Linked DNA regions of Homo sapiens. The protein of the gene in region 3 interacts with the protein of the main gene of each other region in a pairwise test. Each region holds a gene or a part of one and is shown on either strand. Other genes may lie near its edges.

Region 1 (3,749 bases), on a different chromosome or scaffold from region 3:
GCACTTTCCAAAGAAAGGTCTGTTCTTTGACAGCCTTCCAGGGGATAACCTCTAAACCCTTGGAATATCCTGCCTGATCATAACGTGTTTGTTTACCTGGAGCTTTGAGTCATGCTAGACAGTTAATGCTGATGATTTATAGTGGGGGCTTTGGGCCACCTGTATCAGTCTTGACCTCTGGAGGGGCTGGTGACTAATTTCGGTCATGCAGACAGTCGGCCATGCCTACATGCTCCCAAAACCACACTGGATGTCAGGCTTGGGGGAGCTCCCTGGGCAGCAATGTTCTGTGCAGGTTTCCTCACATCACTGCTGGGAGAATTAAACATCATTTGGTTCCATTTCCCAGCTGCTGAAAAACTGTAATGTTGGGAAGAAATTAATAATTCAGCTTAAATCCAAAGGAAGAATGTTGATTGTGTAGATTTTGTAGAATTTTTTTTAAAATGTTGAGGGAAGAAGGGAAGACCAACTATGTAGAAAAGGGAGCCTTTATTATGAACACACAACTCTTTAAAACAAGTGAAGTAATACCCATGTAGAATAAAAGCAAAGAAAAAAGAAACAATTCAGATAATCATCACATAAGAACACTTATATGTTTTATTTTATCTTATTTTATTTATTTTATTTTATTTTGAGACAGAGTCTCCTTGTGTCACCCAGGCTGGAGGGCCATGGTGCGATCTTGGCTCACTGCAACCTCCGCCTCCTGGGTTCAAACGATTCTCGCGCCTCAGCCACCCAAGTATCTGGGATTACAGGCGTGGTGCCACCCAGTTTTTTTTGTAATTTTGGTAGAGACGGGGTTTCACCATGTTGGCCAGGGTGGTCTCGAACTCCTGGCCTCCAGTGATCTGCCCGTCTCAGCCTCCCAAGGTGCTGAGATTACAGGCATGAGCCACTGCACCCAGCCACTTACATGAAACATCTGACTGCATTGCTGAATTCAAAATATCTGAATATGTTATACAGAAAAATGTTTTGGAAATCTAATGAAAATTAATAACGAAATACAATGTTCTACTTACAGTCATTGTTGACTTATCTTAATAATTTGTTTGTTTTGTAATGTGACAAAATAGATCTATATTGTTCATCTTGTCAAAAATATTTATGTGCAGAACTGTATTTTAAAACAAGCAAGTACAAAAGGAAATAAATTAAAGTACACGAATATTTTATTACCTCTCAAAATAGCCTGACTTGAAAAGACCATCACTCCATGGCCAATGGATCTACTTGATCCTGAAATAACCGAGAGTGGGGTGTATCTGTTACTATCAGCAGGTCAACCTTACAGCAACAAGAAGAAAGGCCTTTGACAACCTGATGGTCACTCCTGGGATTTCTATGGCTAACTTAAGTGGCAAGAACTAGCAGGAAACTAGTTGACTTTTTTTGAAGAAAGAAATGACAAAAGTTTCTCAATCAGTACCTTTTAGTCATCATTTCTTGGAAACAACTATACATCATACAGTTGATGCCTTTAAAGACACGACTTTGGGTATGGGCTCAGTGGCTCATGCCTGTAATCCCAGCACTTTGGGAGGCTGAGGCAGGTGGATCACTTTGATGTCAGGACTTCGAGACCAGCCTGGCCAACATGACGAAACCCCGTCTCTACTAAAAATACAAAAATTAGCCGAGAATGGTGGCACGCACCTGTAATCCCAGCTCCTTGGGAGGCTGAGGTGGGAGAATCGCTTGAACCCGAGAGGTGGAGGTTGCAGTGAGCCAAGATCTTGCCACTGCACTCCAGCCTGGGCGACAGAGAGAGACTCCGTCTCCAAAACAAACAAACAAGCAAGCAAAAAACATAAAAGCACAATCCATTGATAAAAAGGGTGCAGCTGGACATGGTGGAAACACACAGGGCATGGGAGGGAGCCTGGGCTCCACCTGCAAGGCGAAGGCCATTCTAGCCAAAGGGGCAGGGGTGGCTGGAAGGAGCTCGGGGGCGAGGTCCTAGGCCCCGTCCACTTGGCTTCCATCCCGAGTCCTTGCATCCCTCCCCAGGAGGAGGCGCTGAAAACTTCTGGGGACAGAGGCCCCAAAGAACCACCACCCACCCCAGTCCACAGCAAATATGGGTGGTCCCTTACGGAAAGAGGGAAGGCGTGTCAGCAGGGGTCGTGGCCCCCAAGGTCCTTCACCCGCATGCGCATGCGCACTTAGCTGACCAATCAGAGAGGAGCGTGGATAGCCAGGGCAGCTGCTCTCGCGAGAACTGAGGACCCATTTTTCTAAGAGAGCGTCGTGGTGCCAGTGCCTGCAGGTTCTGTGAGGAAGCGGCATCAGGGGTCCCTCAGGTGAAGCGCTCGCGGTGGGGAGGCAGGAAGTCGAGCATGCGGCCCTCTCGCAACCAGGGTGTGAAGCGCAGGTGAAGCGCTCGCGGTAGGGAGGCAGGAAGTCGAGCATGCTGCCCTCTCGCAACCAGGGTGTGAAGCGCTGAGCGGCCGGCTGACCTGCACACGGGCAGCCCGAGACCCCTGGCCCCTTCTTGGCTTTGGAGTCCACCATGCACGTGCTAAGAGGCCCCAGGTTTTCAAAGCAGGAAATGGCCCTGGCATCGTTGCCTGGGGCCTGGGTCAGGGCGAGGCCCTGAGGGTGGGCTGGGATGGGCCAGGGCAGGGAGGGAGCTGGAGACACCTGAGTGATCCCCAGGGCCCAGGAGTGTCCCCGGGACTTGTGCATGTGTGCAGTGGGTAGGGGTGGGGCAGGGGAGGGGGGCTTGGGGGAATGGAGGGGGTGGAGAGGGGAGCAAGGGAGGGGTGGTGGCAGAGGGTGGAGGGTCGGGGAAGTGGCAGACAGGCAGGGGCCGGGTGTGGGGCCAGGGATGGGGGCAGGGGAGGGGAGGGGTGTGGGGTTCGTGGGGTGAGGGGATGGGGGAAGGGGAGGAGGAGGGGCGGAGTGTGTGGGGAGGCGACAAGCAGGGGTGTTGTGGGGGACAGTTCGAGTGGGTCCCTCCAGCCCGGCCGCCCGTCAGGACAGGACACTTGGGGTCACGAGGGGTCACCTGGGCATCCAGGCAGGCAAGTGGCAGTGCAGCCCCTGACATTCCCCCAGAGATGGCTGGGGAGGTCCTGTGACACCCGTGGTCCTCCGGGCCACGCAGGTCTCTGGGGCACACAGGGGCAGGGCTGAACTCTGTCCCAGGGACACCGCAAGGATCCTGCAGGGGCCATTCAGGTGTGCGAGGCAGCTGTGAGTTCTGCAGCCAGCCCCAGGGACGGGCTGGACGGGCCACGAAGGATAGGAGGGGACACTGGCATCTTCTCCGACCCCTCCTGCTCCCACAGGATACACGGGGTGGGCCAGCCCCACCCTTTCTTGAATCCGAGATCCCGTTGGCTCTCCTTTCACATATCCTGTTTCCTTAGCTTACTTAGTTTGACTTTGCACTCAACCAGGTTCAGGGATCGCCTCTAACTTCCCAGGACAGCCAACCATGGAGCCCGTGGGCAGGAAGCGCAGCAGGAAGGCTGCCAAAGCTCAGTTGGAAGCTCAAGTTACGGCCGCCCAGGGGGCCACGAAAGAAGGTGCACGCCCAAGGAGATGGTCTGTTTGCTCTCTGCGCGGGGGGCACATGGGCAGCCCGAGACCCCTGGCCCCTTTGTGGCTTTGGAGTCCACCATGCACGTGCTAAGAGGCCCCAGGTTTTCAAAGCAGGAAATGGCCCTGGCATCGTTGCCTGGGGCCTGGGTCAGGGCGAGGCCCTGAGGGTGGGCTGGGATGGGCCAGGGCAG
Region 2 (3,749 bases), on a different chromosome or scaffold from region 3:
AACAAGCAAGTAAATGCGTAACTCCAGAGACATGGTGAACAAAGCAGGATGCATACGCAAGACGAAGCACTGTGCAGCCTCGGACAGTGATGCTCGCTATGCTTATGAACGAATGCTGAGGAGGCAAAAGGACAAAAAGATTATAGATTTGGTGTAACCTATTCTATGCACACACACACACAAAATGCATACACCAAAGGAAAAACCCCAGGAGGAAACACAGAAAATGACCACCAGGTCATTTGTTCATTGATTCCCTCTTCCGTTCATTCCGCAAGCATTCACTGAGAGCATGCAGCATGCGGGCCCTGTGCGAGGCGCGGTAGTGACAGTGGTGATGAGGCAGTCCTGAGTTCAGCTGTACAGAACACAGGGACCTGCACATGTGCCAGTGTTGCAAACAGGCAATGGTGGCATCTAAACTGAGCTCTGAGGACCCAGAAGGGACTGCCCAGGGTTCACAAGAAGCTTGCATGGGGCCTGTGGTGTGGAAAACCTGAGGGCTCTCTGGGGAACTGAGCCTAACATAGTTCTGCAGTGGGAGAGTGCCCGGGGAGGGGCAGGATCCAGAAGCCAAAATAAAATGGACCTGACTGTTTTTAGAAATAAATGATTCATTTTTTAAGTGTGGCTATAAAGACTACGCAATAGTATGGGAAAAAAAAGCTTATAATACAATGTTAGTGTCAGATATAAACATGTTGTAAAACAAAACAGGAAAAAAGCCTATCTACCAAATAAACAAAAACATGAAAGAAAACATACCAAAGCAATAGATATGTGAAAAATAATTTTTACTATGTACATACACCATATAACATATAGTATACATAGTATGTATACATAATATACCATATAATACACTATATATGTAATGTGCTATATACTATGATGATGCTAGTATCATGGAATTTGGGGGAGTTTTTTCTCAACTTTCCAATATTTTCAAACTACTCTAGTCTTATTTTAGCATTTTGTTTTGTTCTGCAGTCAACTGTTTTAAAGGCGGCAGTGCCCTTTTCTGCTTGGTCGGGGTCAGAATTCTGTAAGGGATTCTCACGGCCCAGTGGAGCTGAAGCCTCTGTGACTTCAGAGATGCTACTTTCCTAACTGCTCCAGGAAATCATTCTGAGGTGAATTCCTCCCACTGTCTACTCTCCTTTGGAAAAGAGGAGTCCTAGCCCCCACGCTGGAGTGCTCTGGCTGGAGTTTCCTGGGAGCGGAGGGGCCTTCCCAGTGGGTGGACTATTTCTCATGGGGGCTTCACAGTCTGTTTCACACTGCCTAGAGAGACCCCTCCTCTGCCAAGCCTGGAACTGAGCATTCCCTGGGCCACAGGAACAAAAGGAGAGCTTTGGAAGAAGGGTGAAATGCCTGGGCACTCAGATCAGATCAGATCAGCTTTTAGGCAAAGTGCATTTCATTTTCTGTTCATTCATTCACTCAGTAAACATGCAAAAAGCACCTACTATGTGCCAGGCTCCAGTCTACATAAGACTGGTGACTCTCAACACTGACTGAATTCTAAGTAGTTGGAAATGACTGGAGAGTAGGGTGAGTGTGCAGTGTGGCCTGGAGAATGCATGTGGAGTTCAGAGTAGGAAGGTCCCCTGTGGAGGCCCAGAGAAAACTTCAGGGCTAGATGCAGTCCTGAAACAGCAGCCCTGGCCCTGCCCATGCTTGAATGCAGGAAGAGAACCTGAAATGTGGGGACAAAGAGCAACTGGCCAAGAACAGAGCCGGTGATGCTCAGGGGAGGGACACCCTCCTGTCAGCCCTCCCCACCCACCCCTTCTATGCACCAGCCTGTATCCAGTAACATGTCGCAAGGTCTTTGCTGGAAGCTCAAGCCTCCTCTGCTTTCTAAGCATGGAGAAGACAGAGACCAGTGTGAAGTATAGGTCAAGAAAAAAAATAAAGAGAAGGAGAAAACAGAGAAAATGCATAAAGATTCCCAGCTTTAAACCTTCTTCCACCTCCATCGTTGCCCCAAATTCCTCCAGGGCTCTCTGTCATGAAAATTTCAGAAAGTGCATGAGAAAACTTTGCAAATGAAGTCAGGGGTCACAGGCAGGGGAAAGTACTGGTCTCAGACTAGGCCAGATAAAGAAAAATATCAAAGACATCAGGAGAGCACCGACCTCGCCCATGGGATGCCTGCCGCAGTGAGATGCCACGCACCTGGCCTAAGTGAGAGGTGGACACACTCCCCTGGCAGCCACCATCTGGGGGTTCAACCTCATGTGTGTCCAGAGCTCTTGATGGGTGATGGAGGGATGGGCAGAGGCTGCTTCATCCCCACTGGAATCAGGCACCTCCTGCCGGGTGTTGACACAGATGTGAGGAAGGAAGGAAGCCACACCTATGGCAGACTGAGCTCTGTGGCTTACTCTGCCTTGGCGTGTCATGGGGCCACTGACCCCCATCACACTAGATTTTTCCAACCCCAGCAAACACACAGAACTCAGCCACCCTCACAGAGTCTCAAAAATAAAGGCTCTAGTGCTTGGCAAGTAAGAAATTAGGTCCATGCATGTGGCAAAAGTTAGACACAGTGAGCTTTGCTGGTTTTTCCCTCTGTTTTCCTTCCTCGGCAACATTCTTAAAAGAAAAATCAAAATAGTAATTACAACAAAAATGTCCTTGTTATCCTTCAGAGAGCACGGCACTGTATTTTCTTCACTCTAATGACTATTGCATCTATTTCCAAGCTTCAGACTATTAATAATACACAGGAATACCAAGAAGCAAATTAAAACAGAAAGGCACAAAAAGTAGAATGGGAAAGACGTGGGTTTGAATCTCACCTCCACGCATTTATTATGGAGCTTCAGTTGTGTAATGCAACTTCTCTGAATACTGGGCAATCGTGAAATGAGTGGGAACATAATGCATTTAAATAGGATAATAATATCTAGAAGGAGGCTCCCACCTCACCCGGCCCATGTCAGTGCCTCAGGAACGTTCATTTATTTCTTTGTGATCAAGGGACAGGAACAAAATGTACGGCATGGAGAAGTAAACAAAAGAATCAATGACTGTACACAGCCATGCTGCTGGGACATGGGACACCTTCTCCAAGCCCAAGATGGAGAGAGGCAAAGTCTTCCATAGACGGAACATCACTCTCCTAACTAAAATAGTTGCATTCTCAAAGATACAAAATGTGCCACTTTCTTAACTGAATAAACGCAGGCAGCATGGCGAGGAAGGACGGCCCAGCAGGCCTTGCCCAGTGTACCCTGAGAGAACACCAAACATTCTGCTCTTAGGTGCTCCATCCACCTACACTGTTTTATTCCCATGCCTTCACCAGATGTTGAAATGTGCTGCCAAATCAAACCTAGACGTAAGACAAACCAAAATAACAAGGAAAGCTTGCTGGTTAAGACTGAGAAACAGCGTGGGGTGGGCAAAAGCTAAGATGCTCGGGTATGAGTCTCAACTTCAGTGTTTCTAGATGGCCTTGGGCAGGTCCTTGTCCTTCAAAGATCTTGCTCAGCTGCAAAATGAGGAGGCTGCACCAGGTGTCCTCTATGGTCCTAAATACTATAAGGCGCCGAGTGACATCTTTATGTGGCATTATGATGCATCTTTTGTGATCAATCTGGTTTTTTAGACATTATTTTGACAAGCTAAAGGGCAAAAAATGCAGATCTAATAATCAGCTGTGACACAGCATGATACTTCTGTCAGCCATAGCCATACCCAGACTAAGTTGCTCTTCTAATGTTCATGAATATTCAAAT
Region 3 (3,749 bases):
GAGCCAAATGGGTGGAGCTGGGATTCATACCCAGATCTGCCGCTCCACAGCCCCCACCCCAGGCCCAAGCCACAGCACCGAAGTCAGAGGACTGATGCCCCAGAAACCAACACAGAGAGTAAAAAGCAAACTAAGGCAAACAGTGCGGTGGGGGCATCAGAAGAGACTAGAGTGAGCAGAGATCCCGTGACCCGTGTCACGCCGGAGCAAGGGCTTTATTTTATTCAACAGAGGCCCTCACATGCTGCTTAGCAACATGGAAAAACACCACCATCCCTGTAATGAAGGACAACCACCGGCCACAGACACAGAGCTGAAAGCGCTGCAGGATCCCGAGCCCCGGACCCGGATGGGCCCTGGATGAGCGGCGTTAGGGGTGGGATGCAAACCCCTGGCACTGCTGGACCTTGAACCTGCTGCTGTGTGAGGCTGTGGAAACTTTTCCTCAGATTCCCAAATGACCCTCCCAAGCTCAGGGCCACAGCCATCCTCTGAGGCACAGAGCAGGGAGAGGCTGGTAACAGAGAGTCTCGCTCCCAGCCCCAAGCTGCCGCAGCGCTGTACTCCTGGCTCTGTGCCCACCAGCTGTGTGGTCCTGAGCAGCCCACATCCCGCTCTGCACCTCAGCCTCCTCATCTGAAAATGGGGACGGGGCAACTGTGAGGACCAGTGAGACCAGACACCATGGGCAGCACGAGGGAGTCCCCTGGCCACCTCTGAACACCCAGCGCTTGGCACTGAGCAGCCAGGTCTGAGTAGGTGCCCAGAGGTCACTTTTGGGGGCAGCTGTGACTGGAAGAGTCAGGAGTGGCCCCAGGCTCCACACACAACAATTTCTGCTCCATTCCCGCTGCAAATGAGTCCTAAAGATCAGACTGGTGTCGCTCAAGAACTCTGCAGATTTCAATCCACACGTTCCTCCCTCAGAGGGACTGAGCCCTTAGTGTAAAACATCCCCCAGGTGCAAACCATGCATGGTCAAGCACACCCCCCCCCCCCACCCCACCCCCGTGCATCCCCCAGGTGCAAACCATGCATGGTCAAGCACCCCCGGGTGCATCCCCCAGGTGCAAACCATGCATGGTCAAGCTTGGGAGCCTGCTCCATCCTGTTTCCAAGTTCCCAGCTCCCGGGAACTGGCACCTTCCACAAAAGCAGCCATTTAACTGCACGTGCAGACCTAAGTGTCCCCTTAGTCAGCTGTGGCAGAGAAATACAGGATCGCACGTAGAACCCACACGCTGTGGGCAAACAGAACCACGGTCCTGCAGGCCACCGGACCACCTGAGATGGTGAAAAGTCAGGTCTTCAAATGACACGTGGCCTTGTCTACCTTCTCTCCCATGGTTCCCACTGCCCCGAAGTCAGGTGTCACTTTCTCAGACAGAGAGAGAGGGCACCTTTACTGAGGGCTGACCTACGCCAGGGCATCTCTGCCATCAAGACCAACGGCTCTGTTCTCTGTACTTGTCTTTTCTCATGAGTTTCTCGTATGGCCCTGGAAGGTAGGTCCTATTGTCGTGAGTTCCTCGCATGGACCTGGAAGGTAGATCCTATTGTCATCCCAGAGTTATAGATGGGGAAATGTTTTATCCTTCAACCTCACCCCACTTCACAGACAGGAACCCAGGTGCAGGGAGGGGAGGGACCTGCTCAAGGTCAAACAGCTCCAGGTACCAGACCTGAAATTCAAATCCAGACCTGCCCAATTCTAATGCTTCTGCAAGCTCATTTCTGAAAAAGACGACTTTGAAATCAGACCGCCATGCCACTGCACCCTCTCTCCCGGGGCCCATTCACTGCAAAACACTGGCTACCCTTCAACATCAGCATACAAATGCTGACCTCCACACTTCTGTTTCTGCAGGGCCCTCTTCCCGGAATGCCTTCTTACCCCCCTCCCCCAGCCTAGACCCTAAGCACCCTTCAAGTCAAGAGCTCCAGCGATACCTCCTTTGTGGGAGCTTCCAAGCTATGTCTGTCCCGAGTCCCTGTCTTCCTCACCTACTCAGGTAAACACACAGCACTCAGGCGATCACCTCTCCATCAGAGCCCTCCCTCTGCTAGAGGTTACAGCTGGAAGCAACATGGTGTGGGGCGTCGGTTACCCTTACTAGTGGCCACATGACCTCACTGTGTCTGTTTCCCCATATGTAAAATGGGGATAGCACCTCCCACATAGGGGTGCTATGGGGATTACGTGTGTGGCAGAAGAGAAAGCAAACTATTGGGCATTAAAAAAAAACTAAGCCGGCCAGGCGCGGTGGCTCACGCCTGTAATCCCAGCACTTTGGGAGGCCGAGGCGGGCAGATCACAAGGTCAGGAGATCAAGACCATCCTGGCTAACACAGTGAAACCCCGTCTCTATTAAAAATACAAAAAAATTAGCCAGGCGTGGTGGCGGGCGCCGATAGTCCCAACTACTGGGGAGGCTGAGGCAGGAGAATGGTGTGAACCCAGGAGATGGAGCTTGCAGTGAGCCGAGATCGCGCCACTGCACTCCAGCCTGGGTGACAAAGCGAGACTCCGTCTCAAAAAAAAGAAAAAAGAAAAAGGAAAAGAAAAACCCTAAGCCATTACTCCCAGGTGCTAAACAAAGGCATGTTCAGTTGGAAAACACTTCATAAAAGGAATTTCAGGAAAACAGATTCTAGCTGGCCTATGTACCATGTATGTCACACTGCAGTTAAAAAAAAACTGTTTAAAGTAAAATCTCTGGTTAGTAAGAATGGATGAATACAGGAGGATTAATTTTCAGGTTCCCTGGGGGTTGGCCAAGTCTGGTTTGGATCAAAGGGCTTGTTATTTCAAAACAAGCACAACAATTCCTGGTCATGGTTGGTCACAGGGACAATGAAGATCAGAAAAGATCTCCCGGTGGAAGGACCTGCTGTCTGGTCCTTCCCTCTCTGAGTCTTCCTGCATGTTACAGCCACTGTGAGCCCTGAGGGCAGGGCTGCAGCTTATCCACTCGGAAGACCGGCTGCCTTGCCAGGAATACGTTAAGCACTTAATGCATGTGGGCAGAAGCCTGAGGCAGCCTGGCCTAGGGCAGGAGCACCATCCAGGCAATAATGCTGTGGGACCTTAGCAAGTCCCTCCCCCAGACCCCAGCATCCAGGCATCTCCAGCTGCATCCACTCTGCACCCTCAGATCCCCACCTGCACGGTGGGGCACTCAGCCCCAACTCCCTACTGGTGACCACAGCAATGGCTTAGAAGCCGTCACTGTGTAAGATCCACAAAACCAAAGTTGCTAGCATTCTTTCCTCATGAGCAATGAGGCATATTTTTATCCCGTCCAAACACAAACACCGGCACCAAGGAGTTCAGCTGAGAGGCCGCCACCTGGAGAGGGCTGCAGGCACCATGCATCCACTCAGACCCGCAGCAGAATGACCACACGTGGCCTTCTGCCCTAAGGGCTCTGGCCCTCACCCAGGCCACCCCCATTCTGTTCTCTCTGGGGGGGCAACCCCATCTCCCAAGCCAGTGCCTCAGAAACAGCCCCTGTGGGAAGCCAAGATGATGTTCACTCTCTCTGATCAGTGCCTCTGCCTCCAGGATGCCAGTCCAGGGGAGTCACTGGAGATGCCCTCGGGGCTCACACACAATGTCCATCATATGGCACTTTCAGCACTGTCCAGAAAGGGGCTGGCTATAAAGCCTACACCCCTCCATATGGTGCAACGCTGTACAGCTGGTAAACGTGACCTCGTACATGAACGTTTTGAGACAAGGAAAAGGT

What was found.
Region 1: the proteins of WFS1 (region 3) and FAM9A interact in binary tests that used the Homo sapiens proteins (3 or more experiments, as listed by UniProt).
Region 2: the proteins of WFS1 (region 3) and ZNF488 interact in binary tests that used the Homo sapiens proteins (3 or more experiments, as listed by UniProt).

What each region holds. Positions count from the first base shown.
Region 1 is NC_000023.11:8,799,874-8,803,622, reverse strand, and holds the start of FAM9A (protein FAM9A), read left to right. Parts: upstream 1-2,239; 5' UTR 2,240-2,312; exon of another isoform or gene 2,313-2,383; intron 2,384-3,413; 5' UTR 3,414-3,451; coding exon 3,452-3,542; intron 3,543-3,749.
Region 2 is NC_000010.11:47,370,643-47,374,391, forward strand, and holds part of ZNF488 (zinc finger protein 488), read right to left. Parts: intron 1-3,749. UniProt on the Homo sapiens protein: Transcriptional repressor. Plays a role in oligodendrocyte differentiation, together with OLIG2. Mediates Notch signaling-activated formation of oligodendrocyte precursors.
Region 3 is NC_000004.12:6,272,850-6,276,598, reverse strand, and holds part of WFS1 (wolframin), read right to left. Parts: intron 1-3,749. UniProt on the Homo sapiens protein: Participates in the regulation of cellular Ca(2+) homeostasis, at least partly, by modulating the filling state of the endoplasmic reticulum Ca(2+) store.